Homo sapiens: one gene and its partners. The protein of the gene in region 1 interacts with the protein of each later gene in a pairwise test. Each region holds a gene or a part of one and is shown on either strand. Other genes may lie near its edges. The genes, in order: INSYN1, DTNB, CCDC146 and WASHC3.

Region 1 (7,329 bases):
AGAACAGTGGGATGGAGACTCGCATCCCCTTAGGGAAGACTCCTGCCCCTGCCAAAATATGCAAGGAACTCTGTTATCCACTACAGCACCCCCAGACCCATTCTTACCCCCGGACAAAGAGGACATAGCTGGCTTAAATTTTTCCAAGATCAAGGGTTCTCAGTATCTGTGTGATTTCTAGGGATATGCTTTGAGCTGGGCCTCAAGCAGTGGAAACCACCTCAGCACAACTATCTGCACTCTCCCAGGGTCCCTTGTGACCAGATCAGAGTCTGGGAGACAGATGGTGGGTTCAAGGGTCAGCTTGGGTCCCAGAAGGTTGTCTTCCACTAAGAAGCTGTGGCGGGATTCAGTCCTTACTGGCCATCTTGGCAGCCCTTTGTGCTAACCCAGAGCTCCAGGCCCACTGACATGCTGCTCAAGTAACCTCTACAACACCGAGGCCCCTCCAGCCTTGGGGTCTGATGAGATTTTTAGCAAAGCAGATTTGCGGAAAGGAGAGCAAGGAGAAAGAAGGTCCCCAGTAGAGTGACACATGTGCACGCAGCTTTGCACACTCCAACGTATTTATGAGTACGTTTTTGTGCCAAACCCAAGAAGGTTGGCTTAGGGTCTGTCTGGTCCCTCCTCACCCCTCACTTACCTCCCTCAGCTCCTTGGCCACCTCCTTGAGCTCGCGAAGGATGCCCTCAAGCTGCCCGATGACCATCTTCATGCGCTGTCGAATCCGCTCCCGCTCACCACCACTGCTGGGGTCGTCACTGGGCTGCCCGAGGTCCGGGGCGCCCCGAATGTTCATCGTTTACCACGTGGCCGCAGGCCTGCCCATACTCCCCCCAGCTGGGCACACACTGCGTCTGCCTCCACGGAGCCCCCCTCGGCTGGGCAGAGCTCCACATTTTAACGGCCCCCCAGCCCACCCTGGCCCTGGGCGGCCCTCAACCAGCCCCTGCCCCCTGCCACCCAGCCTCCTCTGCCTCTGGGTGGAGAGTGGGACACCCAGAGGGAGACAGAGTCTAGCAGAGGGGGTCAAGGTGAGGACACAGGAGAGGAGGGGGAGGGACCTTGGGTCCCAGGAGTGGCCTCCAGGTCTTGAAGTGCCTGTGGGTGTGCAGAGCTGATCTCTGCCTGAGCTTGAACACAGAGGCAGGGGGATGACTCTGCAGGGACTAAGGGTAAGAGATGCCCTTGGGATGGGGGAAGGCAGCAGGGATCCCCTCACAACTCCTAGGCAGTTGCAAAGGCAGAGGTCTCTGGATGCAACTGACACCTGCAGAGGGATGGTGGCCAGGGTCTTCCAGATGTGGAAGGGGCTCCGGATATGGGCAGCTCTGGGGAGGGAGCTGGATTGGAAGAGGGCAGCCCCCTGCGGAGAGAGCGAGCCTGGCGTCAGCCCTCCCAGGCTGCAGCACCAGCCGGCAATGCCGCTGCCTCCCTCCTCTCGCCAGCCTGCACCCTTCCTCGCTGGGGATTTTTTTTTCTTTGTGGGGAGGGGTGGTGGAGGCAGACGGTTTACAGCACAGCCCCTCCTCTAGAGGGAAAGGGAGGGAGCCCCTGCTTTAGAAGCAGAAGTCCTCAGCCTGCTACGGGGCACCCTGGCCGTAGCTCCCGCCCTCCCCCCCCACCTTCCCCCCAGCCAGGCCTGCCCAGGCTGGTTCACCAGAGGGCCTCTCCAGTCACCCATCCTCCCTCCTAGCGCCCCCAGGGTGCCCTCGTTCCCAGCGGACCCTCCCTCCCCCAGCCCCGCCTTCCCTCAGAACCCCCACTCCTGGACTCACCGAGGGTGGGGGCACCGGCCTTCCCTCCAAGCAGCGTCGGGGGCCAAGCCCCAAGACGGAGTTGGGGGGCCCCCAAGGCTCCCTAGGGCGGGCTTCTCTCTCTGGACCCTTCGGCCCCGGGCCTCAGGGAGGTCCTCCGAGCCGTGACCGGAGACATCTGGGCGGTGGGAGGGGGCGGGGCCTCCGCGCTCCAGGGAAGGGGGCAGGAAAAATCTTTCTCAAGCCTCTCCAGGCTCGGGGTCGGGAATGAGCGAGGGTCCGGCAGATTTGGGGCTCCGAGGCCACAGGTGACCGGGGCGCGGGGAGGCCGAGGAGACGCCGGGCAGGTCCCAGCGCGTGAGCCAAAGTCGGAGGGCTGGGAGGGCGCCGGGATCCCCTCAGCCCACGCCCGGCATTCCCCGGGCTCTGCACCGTCCGGGATTCGCTCTGTCCAGTCCAGATCGGCCGGGTCCGTGTTCCGCTGGGGTCTGCCCTGCCCTACCCCGCCCGGAGTGAGCTGGCACCGCCGGGCGCCCGGGACGCGCTCAGCCCGGACCCAGAACGTCCGTGCCCCGGCACCCGCGGCGTCCGGAGCGGCCGCGAGGGTCTGCTCAGCCCAGCCCCGCGGTCGGCCCTGGGCGAGACCGCTCCCACGGCTCAGTTCACGTTCCGAAAGGTCCGGAATCCACCGGGTCCCCGAGGAGGGGCGATGTCAGCCGCGGGGACCCGGTCCCCGCCGGGCCCAGCCGAGAGCGCGCGAAGCCGGGGGCCCCGGCCGGGCTGGGTTCGGCGGCCCGGGCGCAGGCGGGAGCAGCGCCGGGCGGAGGAGAGGAGAGGAGGCGAGAAGAGGCGAGGGGAGGAGGCGCGGCGAGGGGAAGGGAGGGGAGGGGGCGAGCGGCGGGCCGGGCCGGGCCGGGGCGCACTAGGCTCGCAGCCTCCGCTCGGCTCCGCTACCTCCCGTCCGTTCGCTCTCGGCTCCCCGCCTCAGCAGCCCCCGGGCGCCGGGTCGCCGCCGGTGGGGCAAACAGGCGCCGGGTCGGGGCTGGGCCTCCCTTCACCGCCTCGCCCTGCCCTGCCCCGCCGGGCTCCCGGGGCCTGGGCCCGCTCCCCAAGCGCCGCGGCGCCGCGCCGCCCGCGCCCCGGCCGCCCCCGGCCCGCCCCGCCGCCCCCCGCCGGACTGGCCGCCCGGGCGGGCGCTGGCTCCCTTAAAGGCCGCCCGGCTCGCTTGGCTCCGCTTGCCTCGGCGCTGTCAGGGAAGGGGCCGGCCCGCCGCGCCGGGAGGGAGCTTTTAAAGCGACACACACGCCTCCCAACCCCGAGGGCCAAGCGTGCGAGCCAGGGGGGTCTCGCCACCCGGGCGAGGGGGAAGGGTCTCGCTGGCGGGGCTGGAGGCGGACTGACCGGACCCCACGCCGGCTGACCTGGGGCGCGGAGGGACAGCGTTCTGGGGACTTCGTTCCTTTCCCACCTCTCCAGACACCCCCATTGCCCCCTTCCCCTACTGCACTGCCCCCAAGCTTCCCTTTTGGCCACGTTTCCCGCATCCAGACCCTCCCTTCTACCACCCACATAACCCAGCCCCTGACCTTGCCTGAAATCACATTCATTCAGAAAATAGAATACTGCCAACCTTTCCTGAGAACCTACTGTGTGCCAAGCTCTGGGTCGGCAGGGCTGGGGGTTGGAGGCTGTCTTGGACACCCATCGTTTCCTTCAGCTATTCAACAATTGACTCATGTATTAGAGGCCTTCTGTGCATCAGGTTCCATGCTAGGCTCCGGGGCCACCAGAGCATTTCAGGAAGCTCACGGCTCGGGGACACTCCTGAGTCACAACAGAGGCAAATTCTGGAAGCAATGTTAACAGGGGAGTAGGGAAGTGTGGGTTGGGTGGTGCAGTTCAGGCCAGGGCCTGGCGGGTTCTGCCAGGTAGGCCACCCCTGAGCTGAATCTCAAAGGAGGAGTAGGAGTGACTGTCAGTGTGGGGGGTTGGGGATCAGCATTCCAGGCAGGGAGGAGGGTGGGAGCACAGGCTCAGAAGCAGAAATGGGAGGAGGGGAGTTTAAGTTAACTGGGGCCTTTTAGATACCATTTTGACTGCAGACCACAGAGAGACTCAGAGACCATGGTTAGGAGCTTAGATTTTATCCCGGGGCGGAGGGAGCTTTGATATTGGGAGGAACCTGGGCCTGCTTGCCTTCTCAGGAAACCCCTCTGGGGCATTGTGAGTGGGTGTGAGGAGGTGCCACCGAGATAGAGCAGTTAGGAGGCTATTTCACCGTTGGCCAGAAGACAGTGGAGTCTATGAATCTATGCTCATGAGAGAGGCTGGGGCTTGAGAGTAACATTTTGTTTGTTTTTTTTTTTGAACCATCATTAGAGGGGTGAGATGAACAGGGACGCTGCGTAGAAGTAACAAAAGCAGTAGTTCTGGGCTGGAACCTCAGAAAAGAGTCCATGAGTGAGAGGGAGGAGTGATTAGAAAGATAGGAGAAGAACCAGAAAGTGGAGAGTTATGTAGGCCCAGTAGGAGGAGTTTGGGAGAAGCAAGTGCTCATCAGTGTCGAACGCGGCAGGGAGTGGCTGTGAGAGAAGGAACAGAAAGTGTCTATTTGTCTTGGTACTCAGGAGGCCACGGGTGACATGGCAGGGGCAATTGGTTTTGGAGGGTAGAAGGTGACAGGAACCAAACTGTTGGGCATCGAGGACTATGTGCCCAACAGTGAGGAACAGGAGTGAGTACAGATGACATTTTCAAAAGTTTAAGTGGCGGGGAAGCAGAGATCTTGAACTAGAGGCAGAGGAGGGGTCAAGGGAGGTGGGGCTAGGTGGTGGTTTTAGGCTGGCCCATGGGGGACTTGAATTCCAGAGACAGTGATGGTACTGTGGGTGCTAATGATGTTCCTTGGTCTCTGAGTTATCTCAGAGATGTATTCACAGGGGGCTGCTGGGGGAACTGACTCCTACTTCCTTGAGATTCAGCTCAGGGGTTGCCTTTGGAGAACCAGAAGCTGTGAGGGTGGGAATCCAGCTGCCCTGGGTTGGGGAGATGTTCTTCTGATGGGGTGGATCCAGAGGGCCCACCAATCACTTAAAAAATTGTAGCAAAATATGCGTAACATAAAATCTACCTTTTTTTTTTTTTTTTTTTTGAGACAGAGTCTCGCTCTGTCACCCAGGCTGGAGTGCAGTGGCGCGATCTCGGCTTACTGCAAGCTCCGCCTCCCAGGTTCATGCCATTTTCCTGCCTCAGCCTCCCAAGTAGCTGGGACTACAGGCACCCACCACCACGCCCGGCTAATTTTTTTGTGTTTTTAGTAGAGACGGGGTTTCACCGTGTTAGCCAGGATGGTCTCCATCTCCTGACCTCGTGACCCGCCTGTCTCGGCCTCCCAAAGTGCTGGGATTACAGGCGTGAGCCACTGCGCCCGGCCTAAAATCTACCATCTTAACCATTCGTAAGTGCATAGTTCAGTGGCACTAAGTACATTCACATTGTTGTGTAACCATCACCACCACCCATCTCCAGAACCTTTTCATCATCCCAAACTGAAACTCTGTGATTAAGAGCTGATAGCAGCCACTCTCTGTGGAGCACCTACCAGGCACCAGGCACTGGGCCAAGTACTTCCACATGCATTATCTTATTCCATCTCACAGTGACTTTCCATCACCCCTCCCCCCGCCAGCCCCTGGCAACCACCATTCTATCTTCTGTCTCTGTGACTCTGACTACTCTAGGTGCCTCATATAAGTGGAATCACACAGTCTCACCAATCACTTTTGTGGAAGCAGTGATGCTAAGGAACAGCCGAGACCAAAAATGGGCTAAGCCTGAAAAAAAAGAGTTTCTAGTCTTAGGTCCAGGGAATCATCCGCCCTCATCCAGGATGAGGGAGATGTGTTTGAACTGGCAAGGTTAGGAGACAGTGAGCTTGATTGGACAGGGTGGACTGTGACTGCTTAATACATAATTGATCTCGGGTCTCATTAATAGAAGCACAGTGTTTTGAAAAAGGGAGGTAACATTTCTTCTGTCATTTGTGTGGATCAAACTGTGCCTAGCACCTCAATTCATTGGGTGTGTCCATAGGAGGACAGCCAAGTAGAATAGGGGAGGTGACTGGTGTATATGTTCTATGAAGGATGGTAGGGCTGGTCAGAGCAGGCTAGAGAAGAGGAGACTCAGGAGAAGGGGTCTCTGATTGTAAATCTCCAAAGAGCTGCCACAGGCGAGAGGGAATAGATAGTATCTGGGTGGTGCTCAGACCTGCCTTCCTTAGTGTTTGGGGATTGATCCATCCTTTCTTCCACCCAACCTCCCTGGCCACCTGCCTAGATGTCCCATCCTTTAGATCTCTGCTTATTCACCGCCAACCTCCACCCTCTAGGCAGCCTTCCCTAGTGCTTTAGTCTACGGAGAGAAATGGAAGCACTTTTTTTTGCCCTTAACCAAATGCTTCCCAGGGCATTCATTTAATGTGCTAGCTGTGTGACCTTGAGCAAGTCACTTAACCTCTCTGAGCAAGGATAGCAGCCTATAAACATTTTAATTCTTTCTTGAATTGGGTCTCTTGTAAAAAAAAAAAGGGGGGGGGATGTATTTCACTGTCTCTCTGATTCAGAAAAATCAGGACAATAATGACTACTTTCCAGGGTCACTGTGAACATGGAATAAGATAATGCACATGGAAGTACTTGGCCCAGTGCCTGGCACCTGGTAGGTGCTCTGTAAATGGTAGCTGCTATCAGCTCTTATTCATGGCTTCATGTCTGTAAGCCTTATTTCCATGTGAGTCTGTGAACTCCTCATGATGGGCTTGTGTGTGTCTGCCCATCTCTCACATGGACCACTGCAGTAGACAGTAGACAGCGATTTTTACCTGTCTGCCTGTTTTCCACCATCCAGTTCTAGCATTCCTTTTCTTGGGGAAACTCCCTGCTGTCATCACATAATCCTAGTGGGTTGTCAGTTAAAGTGCCCACTACTCCCACCCATCCCTATCCCACTGCCACTAACTAGGCATGTGACTCAGACTGCACCAACCGTGGAACCCCATCCTCCAGCAACAGTGATTGGTCCAAGGGGTGGGCACATAACCTAAGCAGGACCAATCAGATTCTTTCCCTGGGATTGATATGTGGATGCTGGGAGGAAGAACCCCTCTTCCTAGTGGGGTGCAAAACTGGATGTTATGGTCCAAACCTGCTGACAAGCCATTTTTCCCACTCAATCTAGGAAGCTGAGCAAGGCAGCAGAGAGGAGAGGAATTTAGAGAGCATGCTAGCAGCATTGAGTCCCAGTTTTTGTTCTCATGGCCTTCACTCCTGCAGTTCTTCTTTCAGTCTGGAGAGCTGCAACAACATCCTACTCATCTCTAAGAGCTGATAAATTCCTCATATTGCTCCAGTTCGTTTGGTGGGGTCTCTGTCTCGTGTAACCAACTGGAGCCTGACAGATGCACTCAGGAAATACTAAATGAGCTGACTAAATGATTGACTGAGTAATTGGGTTCCCAGATGGGGTAAGATGTCTCCAAATCCTGAAGCCAGAGGGTTGGGACCTGCTGCCC
Region 2 (7,027 bases), on another chromosome or scaffold:
AGGATTACAGGCATGCACCACCACCATGCCTGGCTAATTTTTTTTTTTTTTTTTTTTTTTTTTTAGTAGAGATGGGGTTTCTCCATGTTAGTCAGGCTGGTCTTGAACTCCCGACCTCAGGTGATCCGCCTGTCTCAGCCTCCCAAAGTGCTGGGATTACAGGCATGAGCCACTGCACCCAGCCTAAACCAACATTTTTAAATGGTTGTTAGCCACATTTGCAAACTACACAGGAATTTTTTCATATAACTCTATTATAAATTATATAAGTATCTTTACACCAAAGGAATCTTTCGATTGTTCAAATTAGCAAGAATGTTTTCTACTGAGTGTTATTGTAGATGGTAAACAATAACCCTAGGCCTTTAAATGATGTGTTCAATACCGTATTTTGTATTTTTTAAGATTTAGATGTATTTTACAGACTTTGTCCAAACTAGTTTCATTAGATACATCATTTTTTTTTTTTACCAGTTTATTCCATTTTTAAGGTGAAATTTCATTCTATTTCTGAACCAACACTTTTGGTAAAGGCCACAGACTCATTTGTAAAACATAAATGGATGAAATATATCAGAGGAAAAAATAAGATTCAACAGTCAGAAATAAAGTATAAGAGCAATCTGGCCGGGTGCAGTGGCTTATGGCTGTATTCAATCCCAGCACTTTGGGAGGCCAAGTCGGGTGGATCACTTGAGGCCAGGAGTTTGAGACCAGCCTAGCCAACATGGCAAAACCCCGTCTCTACTGAACATATAAAAATTAGCCAGGCGTGGTGGCGTATGCCTGTAGTCCCAAATAGGAGGATGAGGCATGAGAATCGCTTGAATCCAGGAGGTGGAGGTTGCAGTGAGCCAAGATTGTGCCACTGCACTAGAGCCTGGACGACAGAAAAATAAATAAATATATGTATTTATTTCCATCTTTGTACCTTGACTAACATACCTTTATAATGGCCAGAAATGTCATGTTCAAATTTAGAACTGTAAGGCACCCCATACTCCTACGTGGGAAGAACCTGATCCCCTTTTCTTCCCACCTCCAGCACATCCCATGCTTGAAAGGACTATGCATGCATGTGAACACTCTAGCCCACATGTCCAAGTTCTGCCCACATTCTCAGCAAACATCCACTCCTTGGCTAGTCCTTAGACACAGGGATACAACTACTTAGAAAAACAAAACAAAACAGAACAACATACACCAGGTTTGGAAGCATAAGTCCTAGAACAAATGGACCAAGAATTTAAAACTAAGAATAAACATGTTTAAAAAGACAATACGAAACAAGAACCACAAATCCCAAAAAAGAAAAATCAGATATATTACATATAGAAAATATAATAGCTAAAGAAATAACAGATGGAATAAACAGTAGGATGGCTCCAGAGGAAGAACAAATTAATGAGCAGAAAGGCAGATCAATAAACTCTTCCAAAAGGAAACAAAGTTAAAGAAATTAAACCATATGTGAGGAACACTAATAGATAAAGAGGAAAGAAGTAGAAATGCCAACAATCAGAAAACGAGAAAACAAAAACAGAGGAAATATTTGAAGAAATAATGAGCTTCTGGTAATAGCACCCTAGGTGATTCTGATCAACTCTTCCTCTGAGCAAAAAAGAAAAGATGGGGAAAGTTTTAAAAAATCTCCTTGAATATAAATTGTTGAGAACTAACAACTGAAGTTACCAAATGCAGGAGAGGCTGGATGTCCAGGGAGGTGAGTGCAATGGATGAAATCACTTTTTCCATGTAAGTGATTTGATTCCAGAGGGGGAAGCAAAATTGCTGAAGTATAGAGTAACTTTTTGATGGTACTGGGGACAAGGAGAAAGACATGGAGGCTTGGACTTGCCAAGGCAGAAGGGGTCCCTTGGCAGGACACGTGGTCCTGCTTACCCTACTCTCCTATTAGTTTGGGCTCAGAGCCCAAAGGCTTCACCTAAAGGTAATCGTGTCCAGAAGTAAACAGGTCCTCACATGTACTGATTAAGAAACTGAATTGACGTGATCCTGGATTGTTAAGGTCTCCAGGCACCTGGAAGAAGCAAACACACATCCTTTCTTGAAGAAAACATCATCCTAGGCCTCAAATTATCCCTGCAAATAATTCTGCAATATAATGTTTGGTATATAATAAAAATAATTTTGCTATATAATGTTCAGCCTATAATAAAAAATAACAAAGCAAATAGGAAATAAAACATCATTAATGAAAACCAGAAACAACAAACAGTACAAAAAGAACCACAGGAAATCTAGATATTAGATTGTAAGTGTAAACCAAAAATAAAATTCAAAGGCCCCCTGCAACCATCTGAGTGGACTCCCTCCTGGGCCAGGGCACTCTGAAATTTAACCAGAAAGACTGGTTAAGGCCATGATGGGAAGCTGGGGATGGACATGCCTCATGATACCCTCCAGTGTTAACATCAACACAGACCTTAAGTCTGAGAAGAAACATCTACAGTCTATTCTCTCTAGAGCCTACTATTTGCAGGCTTCATCTGTGTGATAAAACCTAGCTCTCCACAACTCTTTATCATAACTCTTTCAACCAACTGCCAATCAGAATATGTTTAAATCTACCTATGACCTGGAAGCTCCCTGTCCCTCTTCAAGTTGTCCCACCCTTCCAGATCAAACCAATGTAAATCTTAAGCGTATCTGATTGATGTCTCATGTCTTCCTAAAATGTATAAAAGCAAGCTGTGCTCTGACCACCTTGGGCACACATTGTCAGGACCTCCTGAGGCTGTGTCATGGGTGTCTAAAAGATGGGTACTTCTGCTCGGTGTTCAAAGAAGCCAACTCTTCCTTAACCTCAACTTCAAAGAGGAGGCATTTAGTAGAAGCTGCTCACAGGGATTTTGTGAAGTCAGCCTAAGGATGGAGCTGATACAAGAAGGGGGCAAAGCCGCGCAAAGAAATAAAGCCAGAGCTCTGATGCAACCAAGATGAGGGGCTGGCCTGCCTCTGGACCCCTCAGTTTGTCAGCCTATACACATGTTGTTATGAAAAGGCCATGTGGGTAGGCTTTTTACAGCTAAAGACACTGGACTAACACAAAGGTTGGAAATAGAAAGGGGATTTTTAAGTAACAAACCTTAAAGTGTGAAACTGGCTCAGCTATAGAAGAGTAAGGAAGACCTCCTCTATCTCATGCTGGGAATTTGGATATCGTTATTATATTGGTTAAAGCACCTTTGTTGTACCTTTGCACCAGACTGTATGACTACCAATAACATTGTACCGGAGAAACTGAGAGGAAAAAAATGCAGCTATCAGTGTTTTCACAACTCCTTGTGGCTTTCACTAAGATTCTACACCCAGGTGTTTTGTGAATATTGGTCTCTGTGCTTTTCAATGTTTTTAATTATCAAAATATAACATATTCAGAACTCTCAGTATTAAAAAAAATTAGGTCTTAAGAAAATACTTAAGGAAAAGTCTTAGATCCTATTTGTTCCTGACCGTTGTTGTAGGGTCTTATACTCTCTTATTATAATGATCAGAAATCATCTGGCCAAACACAGGGACTATAAATTTGGAGGTGAGAGAAGATTAAATAATTTTTGCTTTCAAACTTTAACCTTATGGAATTATGAAATACAAAGGCTGGAAGCCTCAATTAAAATAAATAACTAGGTTGTCTATGTATAAAAGGAACTCTCCAGCCTAAGTAATAAAGCGGCCAATCAATAAAAAGACTAACATTTGAAGTATTTAACGACAAAATGCCCTGGTTTTCAAAATTAACATTCTGATAACCAGATTCTTTCTTTTTTTCCAACACAAGAAGGTCAATTTTAAGCTTCCAGATAGCCAAATAAGCTCTATTATATAAAGGTATCAAAGTTAGTAAAGATGTGATCATTTATTCTGATACCATGGTCTATGTTTTAAACACATCAAAGTAAAAATTACCCAACTCACTAATAACATACTATACCCCTTACTCTTCTTAACTCACTCATTTTTTTTTTTTTTTTTTTTTTTTGCTAGTTATTTTCGGTGTGTGTTTCTACACATCTGCCTTCAACTGATTCACTGTCCACTTATTCTCGTCTCTCTGTATGTGTCTAGCTTTCTCGGAATATGGCCCAGGATATCCTTGTACCTTCTGCTTCTGAGTTTGGTCCTCCCATTCTCCCTTTTGCCATCTCTGCCCTCTTCCTTCCTCTCCCTTCTTTAGCCATATGCTATAACCTGAATGCCTGTGTTCCCCAAAATTCACATGTTGAAATCCTAACCCCCAAGGTACGGTATTAGAAGGTGGGACCTTCTGAAGATAATTAGGTCACGAGGGGGTCCTCATGAACGGGATTAGTGCCCTTATAAAAGAGGTTCCCGAGAACTCCTTTGCCCCTTTGTCATGTGAGGATACCACAAAAAGGTGCCGTCTAGGAGCCAGAAAGGAGGCCCTCCCCACACACAGAATCTACCTTGATCTTGAACTTCCCAGCCTCCAGAATTGTAAGAAATAAATCTGTGTTGTTTATAGAGAGTCCAGTTCATGGCATTTTGTTAGAGCAGCCCAGTAGACTAAAGCGCCATAGTATTTAACTTACTTGACATGATTATGGAATCCAAGATTTTAATCTCTGCTTGACCATTTTTAGACAGTAAGATGGTTTTAATTTCTGACTTTAAAAAATATTGTTTCTTGAGTTAATTTGTGTTGTGTGACCCATGAATTGGTTTACTGAGTGAGTCAGTGTCATGATAAGGTGCTGCTTACTTATTACAGAATAACAATTTTTACTAAGGGTTTTGAAACAAAAAGACAGTTCCTGAGCAGGAAAAAATTAACCTATGGAGTCACTAACTAAAATTACTAAAAAATGGCATTAGAATTCTGGGACTTATGACACTTACACACTCTTATTTTTAAAATTCAGATTTCTGCCGGGCACAGTGGTACACACCTGTAATGCCAGCTACTAGAGAGGCTGGGGAGGGAAGACTGTTTGAGCCCAGTAGTTAGACCAGCCTGGGAAACACAGCAAGACCCCATCTCAAAAAAATAAGTAAATTTCTTTAATAATTTTCTATTAAACGGATACAATGTCTAATCTGATAACGGCTTATAAAAATGGTGTGAATTTAGTGAGTGCTTAAATTATGACTTGGCTTTGACATTTCCATAGTGTTACCACTAATTCACAGACTCCTCCCTATTATAAGATATAACTAATAGCATTTTACAAATGTATGAACTCAAAGAAGGTCTACAGACAGCAAAAAATGAAGCAGAGACAATCCATTCAAATCAGATGGCCAAGAGTATAGCAGAAACTGGAACTCTTGGTTCACAGAACATCACCATTTAACCTCTGTACTTCCACAATCATAAATCTGTGCTTTACAATTTTGTTGTTTCATTCTTTACAATACCAACTCAATTCTCTACGAATATAAGTGCAGCAAATCATTTCCGTTTTAATTGGAGTACATTTAAATAGTTTTCTTCTTTTGTTTCAAGATCTACTAAACTATGTTCTGCAATGAAAAAATTTAAAATAGGTTCCTAGACATAAAGAGAAAATCTGTTTGGCCAGGTGTGGTGGCTCACACCTGTAATCCCAGCAGTTTGGGAAGCCAAGGTGGGCGGATCACCTGAGGTCGGGAGTTTGAGACCAGCCTGACCAACATGGAGAAACCCTGTCTCTACTAAAAATACAAAATTAGCTGGGCGTGGTGGCGCATGTCTGTAATCCCAGCTACTTGGAAGGCTGAGGCAGGAGAATCGCTTGAACCCGGGGGGTGGAGGTAGTGGTGAGCCGAGCTTGCACACCATTGCACTCCAGCCTGGGCAACAAGAGAGAAACTCCATCTCAAAAAAAAAAGAGAGAAAATCAGTTACTATAGTCCAATATTTGATGTTACAGAGTAAAGATTAGCCTTCTGAACAAACTAGGCATAGAAGAAAAAAGAAAGAGGAGACTTAGAAGTCAAATAGAAAGCCCCATAATCAAATTCAAAACTTAGTGTTTTTCATGAGCTGGAGGACAGCTGTATTAAGGTATCTATAATTTTCCCAAACAATACATCTCAAATGTGATTCTCCACAATATTCCAGAGTTTAATATATGACATACTCTAGGACAGTAAGTCACTGTGAACCAGTTTCTAGAGGGGCTTACACCGAATAATTTTCCTTTTTTTTTTTTTTTTTTAAGACAATGTCTCGCTCTGTCGCCCAGGCTGGAGTGCAGTGGTGCAATCTCTGCTCACTGCAACCTCTGCCTCCTGGGTTCAAGCAATTCTCCTGCCTCAGCCTCCTAAGTAGCTGAGACTACAGGCGCCCACCACCACGCCCGGCTAATTTTTTGTATTTTTAGTAGAGACGGGGTTTCACCGTGTTAGCCGGGATGGTCTCCATCTCCTGACCTTGTGATTTGCCCTCCTTGGCCTCCCAAAGTGCTGGGACTACAGCTGTGAGCTACCGTGCCCAGCCAATAATTTCCCTTTTAATCATGATTCTAAGTTGCCAGCTTAGCAAGGCAACTTAGCACGGCAGTATGGAAGAAGAATGATTCAGAGACAGGTGTTCTTAAAATGAAGTAAGCGTGTAAGGTAAGGTACTACTAGCCTGTCATATGCAGCAATCATAAAGTTGAGGAGGAGGCTGATAGATTGTTCCACACTAATTTGGTGAGTAGAAGGAAGGCGCTTGTTCAACTGATAGTAGATGGAGGAGATGACAGTTTCGAGGCGGGACACACTGATCTCGGTGGTATGGTCCAGTGTATTAAGGCCATTGTCTCGGAAGGCTTCAATCATGTTCCAGATATCAACAAGATGAACTAAAAGACAAAGAAAATAAACTGTCAACAATTTTAAAGTGTGGTACTACCCTTCACAATAGGAATCTAAAATTTATCAACTAGTTCTTAAGTTTAAAGAGAAGAAACTCTTTAGCCAACAATGAGGAAAACATTCTGTGGTCAAATAAAGAACATCAGTCCCAGACAACATCAAGGAGCCACCACAGCGGTATGGGAAGGACTACTTCCAGCCT
Region 3 (7,027 bases), on another chromosome or scaffold:
TTCTATGGTACTTAATCTAGATTTTCTGGTAGAAGTGAACCTAAGTCTGTTTTTTTGTGTGTAGTCTTTTAGAACCAATCTTGTGATTTTTACCAATGTATAACCCTTCTTGAGCTAAGAAGTATTAATTTATGAGACAAATTATTGCTTCTATTTAGGTTACCTTACTCTTCAATATTAAGAATGCTTTGATGATTCAGCATTAGAAGCATATTGAATGGATTAACTTTACTTACTACCATAACTACCAAAATTGGTTATTAAAGGTAATTATACATTTTATCCCATTGTTTAAAGAAATCTTACTGAACAGTTATTTGATCAATAAACAGGAATTGTTTTATTAGTACAAGCAACACTTGCTGGTTTTAAGAGTCTTACTCATTACACTGAGGTTTCCGTCAGTACTTTGAATGGACATTATAACTGCGGTCTACTATAAATCTTACTATGACTGAGGAGGGGTGGCCACAGGGTCTGTGTTTGCCCAAAGTTCCAATTTAACATCCTAACGTGCTGTGCTTCGGGCTAAGATGGAGTAGCTTATAGTAAACCAATGCTTCCAACAAGAATAACTTGGAAAGTTGGAGTGAAAATATGTTTGAGGGCATAAGAGTTGCAAAGGTTAGTAAAGTTAAAATCATCAAAGGTATTAGCACTGTCTTGGAAGTAGTAAAAATACAAATAACTTATATTTGACTCTAGTAAGTCAAAGATGACTGTTGTAATCTTCAGGGTAACCACCCAAAGAATAGAAATAGAATGTAAAACTAACTGATGCATATCTAAAACAAGGATAGCAGAACTATATGAAACGTTGATTAATCCCAAGGAAGGAAATGTGGGAGAGAAAATGGAACATGAAGCGGATGGGATACAGAGAAAGCAAAAGTAATATCACAGAATAAGGACAAATATATCCACAATTACATTAAGTATTAATTTTTAGACTAAATACAAGAATTTAAAAAGGCAGAACTTATCAGACTAGATTTTGAAAAGTATGTGCTGTGTATATGAGACACACCAAAATGAGGACACAGAAAGAGTGACGGTAAATAGGGCTGGGTGCGGTGGCTCGCACCTGTAATCCCAGCACTTTGGGGAGGCCGAGGCAGATGGATCACTTGAGGTCAGGAGTTTGAGACCAGCCTGGCGAACATAGTGAAAGCCTGTCTCTACTAAAAATACAAAAATTAGCTGTGTATTGGTGGCACATGCCTGTAATCCCAGCTTCTTGGGAGGCTGAAGTACGAGAATTGCTTAAACCCGGGAGGTGGAGATTGCAGTGAGCTGAGATGGTGCCTGCACTTCAGCCTGGGCAGCAAAGCAAGACTGTCTCCAAAAAGAAAAAGAAAAAAAAATCAAAGTAAATAATACCATGCAGAATCTAACACGCCAAAAGATAGTGTAACTGATGTTATTATTCTAAAATCAGACAAAATAATATTTTAAGGCAAAAAGTACTACTAGAGTTAAAGAGATTTCAGAGTGATACAAATAAATCTACCTGTTGGAATTGCAATAAAATGATTAAATAAGAAGTATATATATCATAAATATACTATATATAACAGTTATATAAAAGTTATTTGTGAAAACACATATATAGTAGAACATACATGTTTTATTGGTTTTGCAAAAGACTATAAAAGTACATTTTGCCTCACTGAGATAGAAAACTTCCTTTTTTTGTTTGAGATGGAGTCTGGCTCTGTTGCCCAGGCTGGAGTGCAGTGGCACAACCTCAGCTCACTGCAACCTCCGCCTCCCGGGTTCAAGCGATTCTCCTGCCTCAGCCTCCCAAGTAGCTGGGATCATGGGTGTGCACCAGCACACCCGACCAATTTTTGTATTTTTAGTAGAGACAGGGTTTCACCATGTTGGCCAGGCTGGTCTTGAACTTCTGACCTCAGGTGATCTGCCGACCTCGGCCTCCCAAAGTGCTGGGATTACAGGCAGCAGCCACTGTGCCCAACCAGAGAACTTCTTGAAAAGATTATAAGTGCCATCTGACAGCAAGACGAAGTCCAAGTCCTAGTTGTTCGTAACACTCATAACCCTAACCGATTTTTTCACACATGTTGCTTAAGGTTGGTCTTTCAGTCAGGACAGGCTAAGTTATGCTACAGAAATAAACGACCTCCAAATATCATGGCTTCGAACTACCAAAGCTGTTTCCTACAAAGCCGGTGGGCAATCAAGAGGACTCTGAGACCACTGTTGGCTCAGCATTCCCGGCTGCTCCCATTTTACAGCACCTCCATGGTGTCATGCACTTCCACAATTACCACAGGAGAGGGAAAAACAGCTAGAGGGTCTCACATTGGCAATTAGATGTTATAGGCTGGAAGTGACACGTGTCACTTTTGTCTACAATCCTCTGGCCAGAATGAGTTATATGACTCTGCTCAACTGCAAAGGGTGCAAGGAAGTATAAACTTTCTATGTGCCCAGGAGGAGAGGAGAACTAGGCATAGGTTAGGATCAGAGGTGTCTACCACAGCTGGAAACTCCTGTTCAAATTTCTTAGGTCATGACCCTCCATAAGGTTCTGGAGCATGACAGTCCTGAAGAGAACGGGGAAGGTTTCTATACACCTAGCTGCTTCATCTCAGAGGCTGACCCCTTTTTCGCTCAAGGAAGGCTCTAGCACAAGGCTGAAGCCCTCTCAAGGATCCTCTGCCCTTTCAGTGGCGCTTGGTCATTTACCACAGGGAGTGCCCTCTGAGAGAAAAGAGAGCCAGGGGCAACCAGACCCCTCACTTGGGAACACAGAGGCAGGTAACAGTTGTCTTGAGCATCTTCTGACTGGAGTACACCTCTGACCCTGCACAGAATTAGCCAGGCAGCCTGATATTGGGTTCTGGATTGCCCTTGGCTAGTCGGAAGTGCAGGCTGCTGATCATTTATGTCTATGTAATTTGATCTAGTCCTTCACTGTTATAGTCTGCCATGACACCATGCCGGATCTGACTCCTTCAACTGGTGAAAATAATGATCCACTTGGCCCCATTCTGCAGTGAACCCTCTAGCTCTTCTAGAACTGGATAGTCCAGTCATTTCCCCAGGTCAGGCTGAAGGATGACTGATCCAAACAAGACATTTCTCTAATCTTGGGTTAGAAAAATGAGATTACGAAACATTATAGGACTATAGATTTCATAATAGGCTTGACGCATTTGAAAATTACCTTTTCTCTGTTACTTGTATTTTCTTCTTCTCTACTGGCAGCAAAAACAACTTCCTAAAATATTTTTACTTCAAAAGTTAGCACCGAGCTTAAAAATCAGATGGTAGTTTACAGCCCTCACCTCTAATAGAAGCCTTTGATGCAGTGCTTGAGTTTGCCTAAGTGCATCCCAGGACACTTTCAAGAGCAGTTCCATCTTTCTTAAATTTCGAAAATCTCGTTCTTTCTCTCTTTGCTTACGAGAAAGTTCATCATGGTAGTTCTGCTTGTCAATGAGACTGTTGCGTAAATTGAGATCCAAGATCCCTCTGTTCCAGGTAAAGGAAGAAGAAGAAAATGATTTTGTTATCAGCTGTCCTAAATGTTTTTCAAAACTTATCAAGACAGCATGCTGAATATTGGCTCCCAATCTCTTCTGGCAAAGACCTAAAAACAGAACTACCGTTTGACCCAGCAATCCTATTACTGGGTATATACTCAAAGGAATATAAACTGTTATATCCTAAAGACACATGCACACATTTGCTCATCACAGTGCTATTCACAATAGCAAAGACATAGAACCAACCTAAATGCCCATCAATGGTAGACCAGATAAAGAAAATGTGGTACATATGCCACAGACTATTATGCAGCCATAAAAAAGAATGAGGGCTGGGCGCGGTGGCTCACGCCTGTAATCCCAGCACTTTGGGAGGCCGAGGTGGGTGGATCATGAGGTCAGGAGATCGAGACCATCCTGGCTAACACGGTGAAACCCCGTCTCTACTAAAAATACAAAAAATTAGCCGGGCGCGGTGGCGGGCGCCTGTAGTCCCAGCTACTCGGGAGGCTGAGGCAGGAGAATGGCGTGAACCCGGGAAGCGGAGCTTGCAGTGAGCCGAGATTGCGCCACTGCAGTCCGCAGTCCGGCCTGGGCGACAGAGCGAGACTCCGTCTCAAAAAATAAAAAATAAAAAATAAAATAAAAAGAATGAGATCATATCCTTTGCAGGAACGTGGGTGGAGCTGGAGGTCATTATCCTTAGCAAACCAATGCAGGGACAGAAAACCAAATATCACATGTTCTCACTTATAAGTGGGAGCAAAATGATGAGGATACATGGACACATAGAGAAGAACAACACACACTGGAGCCTTTTGGAGGGTAGAGGATGGGAGGAGGGAGAGAATCAGGAAAAATAATAGGTACTAGGCTTAATACTTGGATAACAAAATAATCTGTACAACAACCCCCCATGACACAAGTTTACCTATAACAAACCTGTATGTGTAACCTTGAACTTAAAAGTTTAATAAAAGACAGCATGCTCAGTATATACACACATGACTATTCTCATGTTGGAATCATAAATTGTAAATAATGCCAAAGGCAACTAGGTTTGTGAGTTGGTATCATTTAGAACTGCAGTCTTATAACCCCCACCCCCCAAAAAAATAACAGACTGGCAGAGATAGAAGCCTCCAGTTTCCTTGAAATTTTACTTAAAAGCAGGACATAGGCTGGGCGCGGTGGCTCATGCCTGTAATCCCAGCACTTTGGGAGGCCAAAGCGGGTGGATCACGAGGTCAAGAGATCGAGACCACCTGGCCAACATGGTGATACCCTGTCTCTAATGAGAAGAAAAAAAAAAATTAGCCGGGCGTGGTGGTGCGCACATGTAGTCCCAACTACTCGGGAGGCTGAGGCAGGAGAATCACTTGAACCCGGGAGGCAGAGGTTGCAGTGAGCCAAGATCGTGCCACTGCACTCCAGCCTGGCGACAGAGCAAGACTCCATCTCAAAAAACAAACAAAAAAGCAGGACATAAAACTCTCCTAGGGAATTACACCACGAAATTGCTTCTGTTAGAAAAAAGTCAAGATGGCCTAAGAAGTATCATTCATTTGTTGGCAAAATCCCTGAACATAACATACTCCAGTGATAAATTTTCCAAAGGCACATTCAGAAACTTACAACATACAACAGATTATATCCTGAAAATCTGGTAACAGAAAATTGAGAAAATTTGAGTAAAGTATCAAAAAATACTTCAAAGTGCTTTATTTGATAATATATTAAGGGTAAAAGTTGATTTAAAATTATTTTTAAATATTTATTAACTCAACACCAAAGTGAGATTTTGAATTCTCAAATATAAATTGAAGAAAAATTTAGATGACAGAACATAACATACATAAATATAACTAACCTTTCAGTTAATGAAGTTGCTTCATTCTCTCTGGCTAATTCCAATAGCTTGACCAATTGGTTATGTTCTCGTTCTTTGATTTCAAGTAAGGCTCGTTTGCCTTCAACTTCCTTTATTACATTTTCCTTCTCATCCACTATAGCACTAACCTTGTTTTCAACTTTCTTTAGGGAGTCATTTAGCGTTTTGACTTCTTGTTCCAAGACAATTTTTTTCTTTTCCATTTCTCTGTAGGGGATACACACACACACACACACACACACACACACACACACACACACACACACACACACACACTTGCCTTATTTTGAGGCCATGCTGGCTTTACCTATTCTTGCTTTCTAACCATGCAGCAGAAGAGATAGTCATAAATTCAATGATCTCAGCAGTGGGTAAAGACCACAGATGGGTGGGACTTGGAGGGTATCTCCACTGAGTGCCACGGAAGGCAGGAATTTGCCCAGCCTCCCTACTTTCTGTGCAGATCCCAATTTGCTACCATCTCCTGTGATTCAACCCTCGTCCTGACCAGCCTCCTGAAACTGACCTGAGTTTCTCAACTTTGATGTTGGTGAGCTTAGTTTTTAGAACAGTTACTAGTGCCTGCCTAATTTTTCCCCTTAAGATTAGTCACCAGAGTAATTATATTATTTTTCCAGAATTTTTGTATCTTCACTTAAAATCTTTATCTTTTTTGGTTCCTTAAACACTGAGAATTTCCTCAATGACCTCTGCCTCCCAATCTACTCTGAATATCTGAGGAGTGTTATACACATGAATGGGTGGCAAAGTGGGGAGTTACTATTATTTGGGCTTTGGGCTGCTGCCTGGCTGATATACTTCTAGACTATGAAATTCTAACCAGTTCGCATAATTTATCCCATGCACCGCTCTGTTAAAGTCAATTGAACTTCTCCATAAAAATATGATTTATAAATTGGCAACAGAATCTTGACCCATAATTAAGCCATAAATACTATGAATGATAGAAATTTGGTGCATTACTTTCTTTTAAAGAACTTGATATAAACAACCTAGACAGGGCCCAAAGCAGAAATTTCTAAAATTATCATAGTAATTTAATGTGTCCAATGGTTAGTACTCTTGTTCTAGTGTGCACACATAACTTGGACTGGCAGGGATTCAAAGTAAAAATATTAAATCATACACTTTTTTGCGTGTTATTTTTTCTATCTCTTTTCCAATTTGTACTGGAATGGTTTGATGGTGGGCCACTTCATCCTAGTAAAGAAACGAAATCATGTTAAATTATGCGGTCTTCGGCTAGAAGCAATTAAGACAAGAAAATTAAATATGAGAGAGAAAGGAACTACAATATGTAGATACTTACCATCTGCCCTGTGTGCTTTAATTATCCCATTTAATACTCACGGTGACCTTGTAAGAGAGCTATATTTGTTATCATTTTGAAGAGGAGGTAACTGAGTGTAGCAAATACTGTTGGTCCTCTGCCCAGATTCCCTTTATGGAGGTACAGATGCTCCTCCACATACAATGGAGTGACGTCCCAATAAACCCGTTGTAAGTTGAAACTACCTTAAGTTGAAAATGCATTTAATACACCTAACCTACTGAAATCATAGCTTAGCCTAGCCTACATTCTCAGGACACTTTTATTAGT
Region 4 (7,027 bases), on another chromosome or scaffold:
TTCTCCATGTTGGTCAGGTTGGTCTCAAACTCCCGACCTCAAGTGATCCGCCCGCCTCGGCCTCCCAAAGTGCTGGGATTACAGGAGTGAGCCACCATGCCCGGCCCGGGTCATTTATTTTATATGTATATTTATGACTGAAAAGCAATTGAACTTGTTGACGTAATTAGTAACAAAAATAAAAATTGCAAGTGGTATCTGGAAACCTTAGTTGGCTAAATAAATCTAGATAATACCTAATACAGTAGCTTAGCTTCAAGTAAGTGTTTGATAAATATTTGTGAAATAAACAGATGGTGGATTTAAAAAGAAAAAGATTTTTTGAAGTTCTTATAAAATTGAAGACAATTATCAAGAATTTAACAGTTATCCTAAGATGCAGCCTTCATAAAGATTTCAGGGCATTTTTACAGAGTATCACCTAGTAGATTTTCCTGTTTGTTATTTTATATAGGTTTGGCAAGAAGGGGCTAACATAAAAAATCTTTCTGAGTCATTTAGAAGCATCTCCCTTTTGTTTAAAAGAGTGAAATAGTTTTTGTTGTTGTTGTTGTTGTTGTTGTTTTTTAACAAGTCTATCTTTTAAGCTTAGGCTTTCCTGGGTTCTAGCTTTAAAAACGTGTTCATCATGATTCATACTTAAACTGGCTTTGTTTTATTCTTGTTAATTAAAAAAACTTCATCTATTTTCATCCCAAAGTCTGGTTTATTTTTTTCTAAATTGACCGCCAATATCCTGAGCTCTAGGCTTCAGAAAAAAAGAACTGTGGAAGTGAAAAATCCACTTCTGATAGCTAGGAAAAGTGCAGCTTCCAAATGAGCCAATCTACTCTTTCTGGTTGTCAGAATTTGCTTTTAAATTACTAGGTGATAAACTATCCCATGGACAGCAAAACAAAACTGTCCTTTAGTATTAGTATTGTGCTTCTTTTGCTTGATAATATAATTTTACAAAAGCATTATTATTATTATTATTATTTTTTGAGACAGGGTCTTGCTCTGTCACCTACGCTGAAGTACAGTGGCACAATCAGTGAGGTGAGCCACTGCACCCTTGAACTCTTGGGCTCAAGCAATCCTCCCACCTCAGCCTCTTGAGTAGCTGGCACTACCAGGTGCATGCCATCATATGGAGTTAGGTTTTTTTTTTTTTTTTTTTTTTTAATGTAGAAGTAGGTGGTCTTGCTTTGTTGCCCAGGCTGGTCTCAAACTCCTGTCTTCAAGTCATCCTCCCACCTCAGCCTCCCAAAGTGCTAGGATTAGAGGTGTGTGTCACTGCGCCAGGCTTTAACTGTTTGATTAACAGAAAAATGATGGACAACTACCTCTTTCAACTACTGAAATACTTTCTAAAGGAATAAAAAAATGTTAGCTTCTGCTATCACAGACAACTGCAGATATTTTTGGTACCACAGCATGTTATGATTTCTCAGGAAAAATATGAATTCTGAAGTCATATAATATTAAAAGCATTACACATGGCCAAGAGATCATTGATAAACATAAAAATTTTTAAAAAATATTATTTGTGCTAATAATATGGGGATTAAGCTAGAGTCAACTGATTTACCAAATGAATAGTCTACTTTCATTACTTTCTGTATCTAAGATTTGCATTGATAACTTTGTGTAATGCAAAAAAATGTACATAAATCTATATTAAACTATGTTAATTTAAAGTGTGGGATCAATTCTAAAGATTTGACTTCCTTTTTTTTTTTTAATCAGAGAATTAAAATAGAAAGGAAGTAAGAGAATAGAAAACTTGGTTACTTGGTTTAGCAGTTTTCTCAGATTGAAAAAAATAACAGTAAAACCTCCAGGGTTAAGAATTTCAAGTGAGGCTGCTACACAAAGAAGACAGACCAAGTTAGCTTACCACTTGAACCATTTTGAGATATCTGGCATATCTTGGATCCTTGGCTACAGTTAAGATATTTTCTGCTGATACTTCACTTTCCTGTAGTCCAGAGTCTTGTGTACTGTTCTGCTGTAGAGAGTATTTGGTGTAAATCTTTAGACAATTTACAAAAGGGGTCTATCATGTTACTTAAAAGGAATGTTTCTTTCCATAATTCTAAGGCAGTAAATTGCAGAAAAAAATCATCTCCCCCAATTTAAATACCAATAATTTAATATGAGATATGTTTCCAAATATCTACAAATATTTAAATATCATTTCAGAGAAGGTTACATTTCAACACTATATTGGTTCCTTAAAATGCAAGTATATTCATGCATTAAAATAAAAATTCTGCTTTACTTGTCCCCAGAGTGCTGATACAAAGCATGAATTATATATAGGTGGTGATACTATTTTAACAAAACTTTTAAGAAAGCTAATAAAACTATCAACTGTTTACAAATTAATAATAAATTTATTGAGATAATGATGAATTGATTTCCTAGGTATCTAGAATCTACCTAATTGAGCCCTTTATTTATTAAATCATTTTATTCTAAGTGGACATGGCTCTTCTAACTTTTAGAAAGCAATTTTTGGAGAAGTTGTAAAAGAGAAGCCAGTTTGTCAGACAAAATTATCTGGTTTTATACATTTCAGATACTGATGGAACTATTAATGGTAACATTGTCTACAGAGTGGTTAAAAGTCATAATGTCATACTAAATATGACTTACAATAAAGAATACTGGGGAATGGTCTTTTTAGATAAAAATGCTATTGTTATACAGGCAGTCTTCATTTTGCATGGTACCATGTTACTGAAACTTGTGCATATGAGAACCATATCCTTGCTTAAATGCAAAACTAGATAGAACTGCCTGTATACAGTACTTGATTTTTCTATCAAACCAAACATTTAGAAAAAGCTTACTTTGGTGAATCTCTCTCATTATCTGTATATAAGCATTAAAAGAATTTCCTTAGAAGAAATCAATTTTATGTCTATTGTTCATTCTGAAATGTAGATAAATCAATATCTTTATATCTTCATAGTCTTTAGACTATGAATGTGAATTACATATTGAAGTTTTTCCTCAGATAATTCAAATATAAATTAAATCTGTCAAAAACTACAAAGCAAATAAACATCCAAAAATCCTTTAGGTTTCTTCTGTTACATGATATTGCTAAGTTTTACCAAAGTGAGTATATATATATACATATATATACACACACACACACACATATTCATCTATAATACAAATACAAAAATTCCAAAACACTGTTAATTAAATAAAAAATTAAAACAATAACCAAGTATGTTTTTTAACAATTTATGGAAATTAAACTCATATAATAGCAAAATGGTGCAAATGAACTACATCCTGGCCAGATATCAATTCTCAGTCGTTAACTTTTGCCTAATAACCAAGACCTCAACAAGGTTTAATTATGAAATGTATTACACCTTTGCTATTTGAATGACCCATTAAATCCTCTATCATATCTCTCAACTGTCCTTCATTTATTCTCAAATCAATCTCACTCTGCACAATTGGATATTCTATTGTGAATAATGATGAAATCTGAACCATGAAATTAAAGTTGCAGAAAAATCAGTACACAAACCTTGGGTCTTTGACTCATGTATAGATTAGAGAGAGTGATAAACAGATGATTTTTTTAAAAAGTGCATTATTCTCCTTTGTCTGATAAGTGAGTTGACTATAATGTCAATGAAAACTCTGGATTAAGCAATACTTAAGCCCACTTCAAAATATTTTGTATAAAATATACCAATTAATAACAATGAATAAATGAGAAGTTGATGTGAATATTAAGAACATGCTGAGCAGTTATTTTATTAAGCTAATCAACACACAATTTTATCACAGTATTTCAAACTTTGGAAGCCAACAGAACTTCATAAACCCTCTAAATAAATACATATACAATTTTTAAATAAAATTGCCAGAGATATACCAGGTTATTCTGAATTTGCAAAGCAAATTAAGAAATTCAGCTGTGATTACTGGTAATCAATTTTTGGGACATTAAATATGTGAGGACAAACACAACTGCATAAGAATTTTAAAGGGCATATTATAGATGGCATTCATAATAGCACCTGGAAAAATTAATAATCAAAGTTAGACAGGTATACTTAAAAATCTTACAGAAATATATGACAGCTCTATCTACCACATAATAACTACTAGGTAGTGTGGAAATATTTTCTTAATATTCTTTATAGACGCTTTATTTTAGAAAGAGGATAGTCATATTTAATTGAGAGAATGTAAAGTTAAACTCCTCTACAACATCTGGATATCCTCTTGCACATTTTATATATTTGAGTGGCCATAATGAAATTTGCTATATTAAATAAATGGATGTTAAATTTTATAATATCTAATTAAGTAAATGATCATCTAATTTATTACCCAAATATATACTATATTCTAAATATATGGCTCTTTCTACAGGGCCTCATACCACGCATCCTCAATATGTTTAAATAAATTGAATACAGGTACTGAAAACAGTGTAGTGTAGTGTAGTATAGTGTAGTGAAGCAGGTAAGTGCTAGGGCTCTTGGCACCAGACTGTCTGGGTTAAAATTCTAGCTCTTACGTTACTTTTCGACCTTCAGCAAGTTACTTAACCTCTATATACCTCATTTGACCCATCTATAAACTAAGATTGATAATATGGTGCTTACATTATAGGGCTGTTGTAAAGATTAAATTAGTTTATGAAAGGCACTTAGAAACGTGCATGCCTTGGTACACAGAAAGCACTCTTGAAGTGTTAGCTGTTATCATCACTGTCAACATCATCGTGATCTAAAAAATATCCTGTGAAAAGTGCCTCCAGGTACAAAGGCAGAATTCCATTTATAAATCTGTTTGTTTTATTTGTTTATTATTATTACTTTGGTAGGCCACCATTTTGATGATTACTTTGTTTTAGATTTTAATACCTCGCTGAGATACACTAGAGATTGTTCTCAAACAACAAAGAATTTTTATTTTTTGAAATAAAAAGTAATAGAAAATTTAAATTCATACAGAAGCATAAGTAAATGTTAAGATCTAAGAGCCAAATGTAAAGTATAGCTTTTACTGGGATGCTGATTCAAACGAATCATCTTCAAAAACACACTGGTATTTCTAAGATCAGTAGCTCTCAAATTTTAAGAGCCTACAGATCACCTAGGGGTCTTGTTAAAATGTAGATTCTCATCAGCAGTTTTGGGGTGGAGCCTGAGATGCTTCATTCTAACAAGCTGCCAGGTGATGCCCATGTGGTTGGTCCATGGCGTGTACTTGAGTAACAAGGGGTTAGACAATACCAGAGAATGTTTTATTTATTTATTTATTTTTTATTTTTGAGGCAGGGACTTGCGCTGTCACCTAGGCTGGAGTGCAGTAGTGTAATCTCGGTTCACTGCAACCTCTGCCTCGTGGGCTCAAGTGATCCTCCCACCTCAGCCTCCCGAGTAGTGAGACCACAGGTGCGTGCCACCACACCTGGCTAATTTTTGTATTTTTAGTGGAGATAGGGTTTTACCATGTTGCCCAGGCTGATCTCGAACTCCTGAGCTCAAGCAATCCACCTGCCTCAGCCTCCCAAAGTGTTGGGATTACAGGCCTGAGTGACTGCACCTGGCCAATTATTGTTAATTACACTGTATATGATAAAGGCATTTATATAAGCAAATGTTACAAAAGAAAATGTCAAAACTTTTCAGAGATGCTCAAAAATTTATGCAGGGTGAGATGACAAGATGTCTGGAATTAATTTCAGCAAGTGACCAAAAAAATAGATGAAGCAATTGTGAAAACTGGTGAATCCAGGTCTATTTTTGTGTATGTTTAAAAATTTTACAATAAAATATTTTAAAAGTACATTTCTTCTAAGAACCTAGAAAAATTTCTAATTATTTTGAAGAAAATAATTATTTGAAGCTTTTTCCTAGTCCTATATAGACTGATTTTCTTTTTTACAGGCAAAGAAAGTATTAACTTCAGGAAGCCCTTCAAAATAACACAGCTAATTTGTTTTTCCCAAACTTCATTTTCTATGTTAAGGTTTTAAAATTTTACTATTAGAAGTTTTACATGTTTATTTTTCTTCCTTCCAACCTGCTGCTTAACACTATCAGTTTCAACCAAGAACATCTGCTCGTTTCTTAGAACTCACTTACCTGTGGTTGCTCTGAAGTGGCTTCAGGATGTGCTCCATTTGTGACACTGGTGACATTTAAAGGAGATACTTCAACTGTGACATCATCTAGGCCTGGGATAGATGACAACTGAGAAAAGAAAATTAGTATTGGAATATGAAGATAGTACTTGCATAAATAAACACTATTTTTAATAGCTGTCTTAAGTTTTAAGGCTATACAAATAGGTTCACAATATCTTGTCTTTAATTTTCCATGTCATAAACTAAAAGTGAAAGACGGTCACAAATTCTTTTGAAGAACTTCTCAAAAATCTAATTTAGTTTACATAACCATCATTTTCAAAATATAGACAATCCTAGTGTAAGGACTGAGAGCCTGGTCTTTGAAGTCAGACTGTCAGGTTTAACTTTTAGCTCTACCACTCACAAGCTGTGTGATCTTGTGTAAAACTCCCTGTGTCTCAATTATCTCACCTGTAAAGTGGAGATAAGAACATGTACCTAGAAAAGTTGTTGTAAAAATATTTCTATTGATAATACTTCGAAAAAAAAGGGCTTTGTGCAAATTTTGAGTTTCAATTATCTAGGATATGACAAAACTCTTGTCTTTACACTTTAATGTGTGACACAGCTCATTCTTTTTTCTTTCTTTGAACATTCACCACTGAATGTTATTAAAATATGTTTCTTCTATGCAAAAAAATGGGCATATTGTTGGTATTTCAACCTGAAATGGTTTAGCTTTCACTATGAAATAGTTAAGCATTTCAGGTTAGATCTGCGAGACCCATACAAACCTTCTTTTCTGAGTTCATCCTGATATCAATGACACGCATTTGTCGATGTTTGGCTAACTTTGGGGATGACTCTATGGCCATGGAAATAACTAAGGTTAACTTGTCCATATGGTCATTTAATGTGCGACCTTGG

What was found.
Region 2: the proteins of INSYN1 (region 1) and DTNB interact in binary tests that used the Homo sapiens proteins (3 or more experiments, as listed by UniProt).
Region 3: the proteins of INSYN1 (region 1) and CCDC146 interact in binary tests that used the Homo sapiens proteins (3 or more experiments, as listed by UniProt).
Region 4: the proteins of INSYN1 (region 1) and WASHC3 interact in binary tests that used the Homo sapiens proteins (3 or more experiments, as listed by UniProt).

The regions. Positions count from the first base shown.
Region 1 is NC_000015.10:73,750,332-73,757,660, forward strand, and holds the start of INSYN1 (inhibitory synaptic factor 1), read right to left. Parts: upstream 3,021-7,329; 5' UTR 1,779-3,020; intron 1,532-1,778; exon of another isoform or gene 1,367-1,531; 5' UTR 800-1,366; coding exon 644-799; intron 1-643. UniProt on the Homo sapiens protein: Component of the protein machinery at the inhibitory synapses, probably acting as a scaffold. Inhibitory synapses dampen neuronal activity through postsynaptic hyperpolarization.
Region 2 is NC_000002.12:25,621,573-25,628,599, forward strand, and holds part of DTNB (dystrobrevin beta), read right to left. Parts: intron 6,813-7,027; coding exon 6,599-6,812; intron 1-6,598.
Region 3 is NC_000007.14:77,258,595-77,265,621, reverse strand, and holds part of CCDC146 (coiled-coil domain-containing protein 146), read right to left. Parts: intron 6,628-7,027; coding exon 6,554-6,627; intron 5,614-6,553; coding exon 5,386-5,613; intron 3,502-5,385; coding exon 3,315-3,501; intron 267-3,314; exon of another isoform or gene 159-266; intron 1-158. UniProt on the Homo sapiens protein: Essential for sperm flagellum biogenesis and male fertility.
Region 4 is NC_000012.12:102,037,989-102,045,015, forward strand, and holds part of WASHC3 (WASH complex subunit 3), read right to left. Parts: intron 6,225-7,027; coding exon 6,117-6,224; intron 1,991-6,116; coding exon 1,880-1,990; intron 1-1,879. UniProt on the Homo sapiens protein: Acts as a component of the WASH core complex that functions as a nucleation-promoting factor (NPF) at the surface of endosomes, where it recruits and activates the Arp2/3 complex to induce actin polymerization, playing a key role in the fission of tubules that serve as transport intermediates during endosome sorting.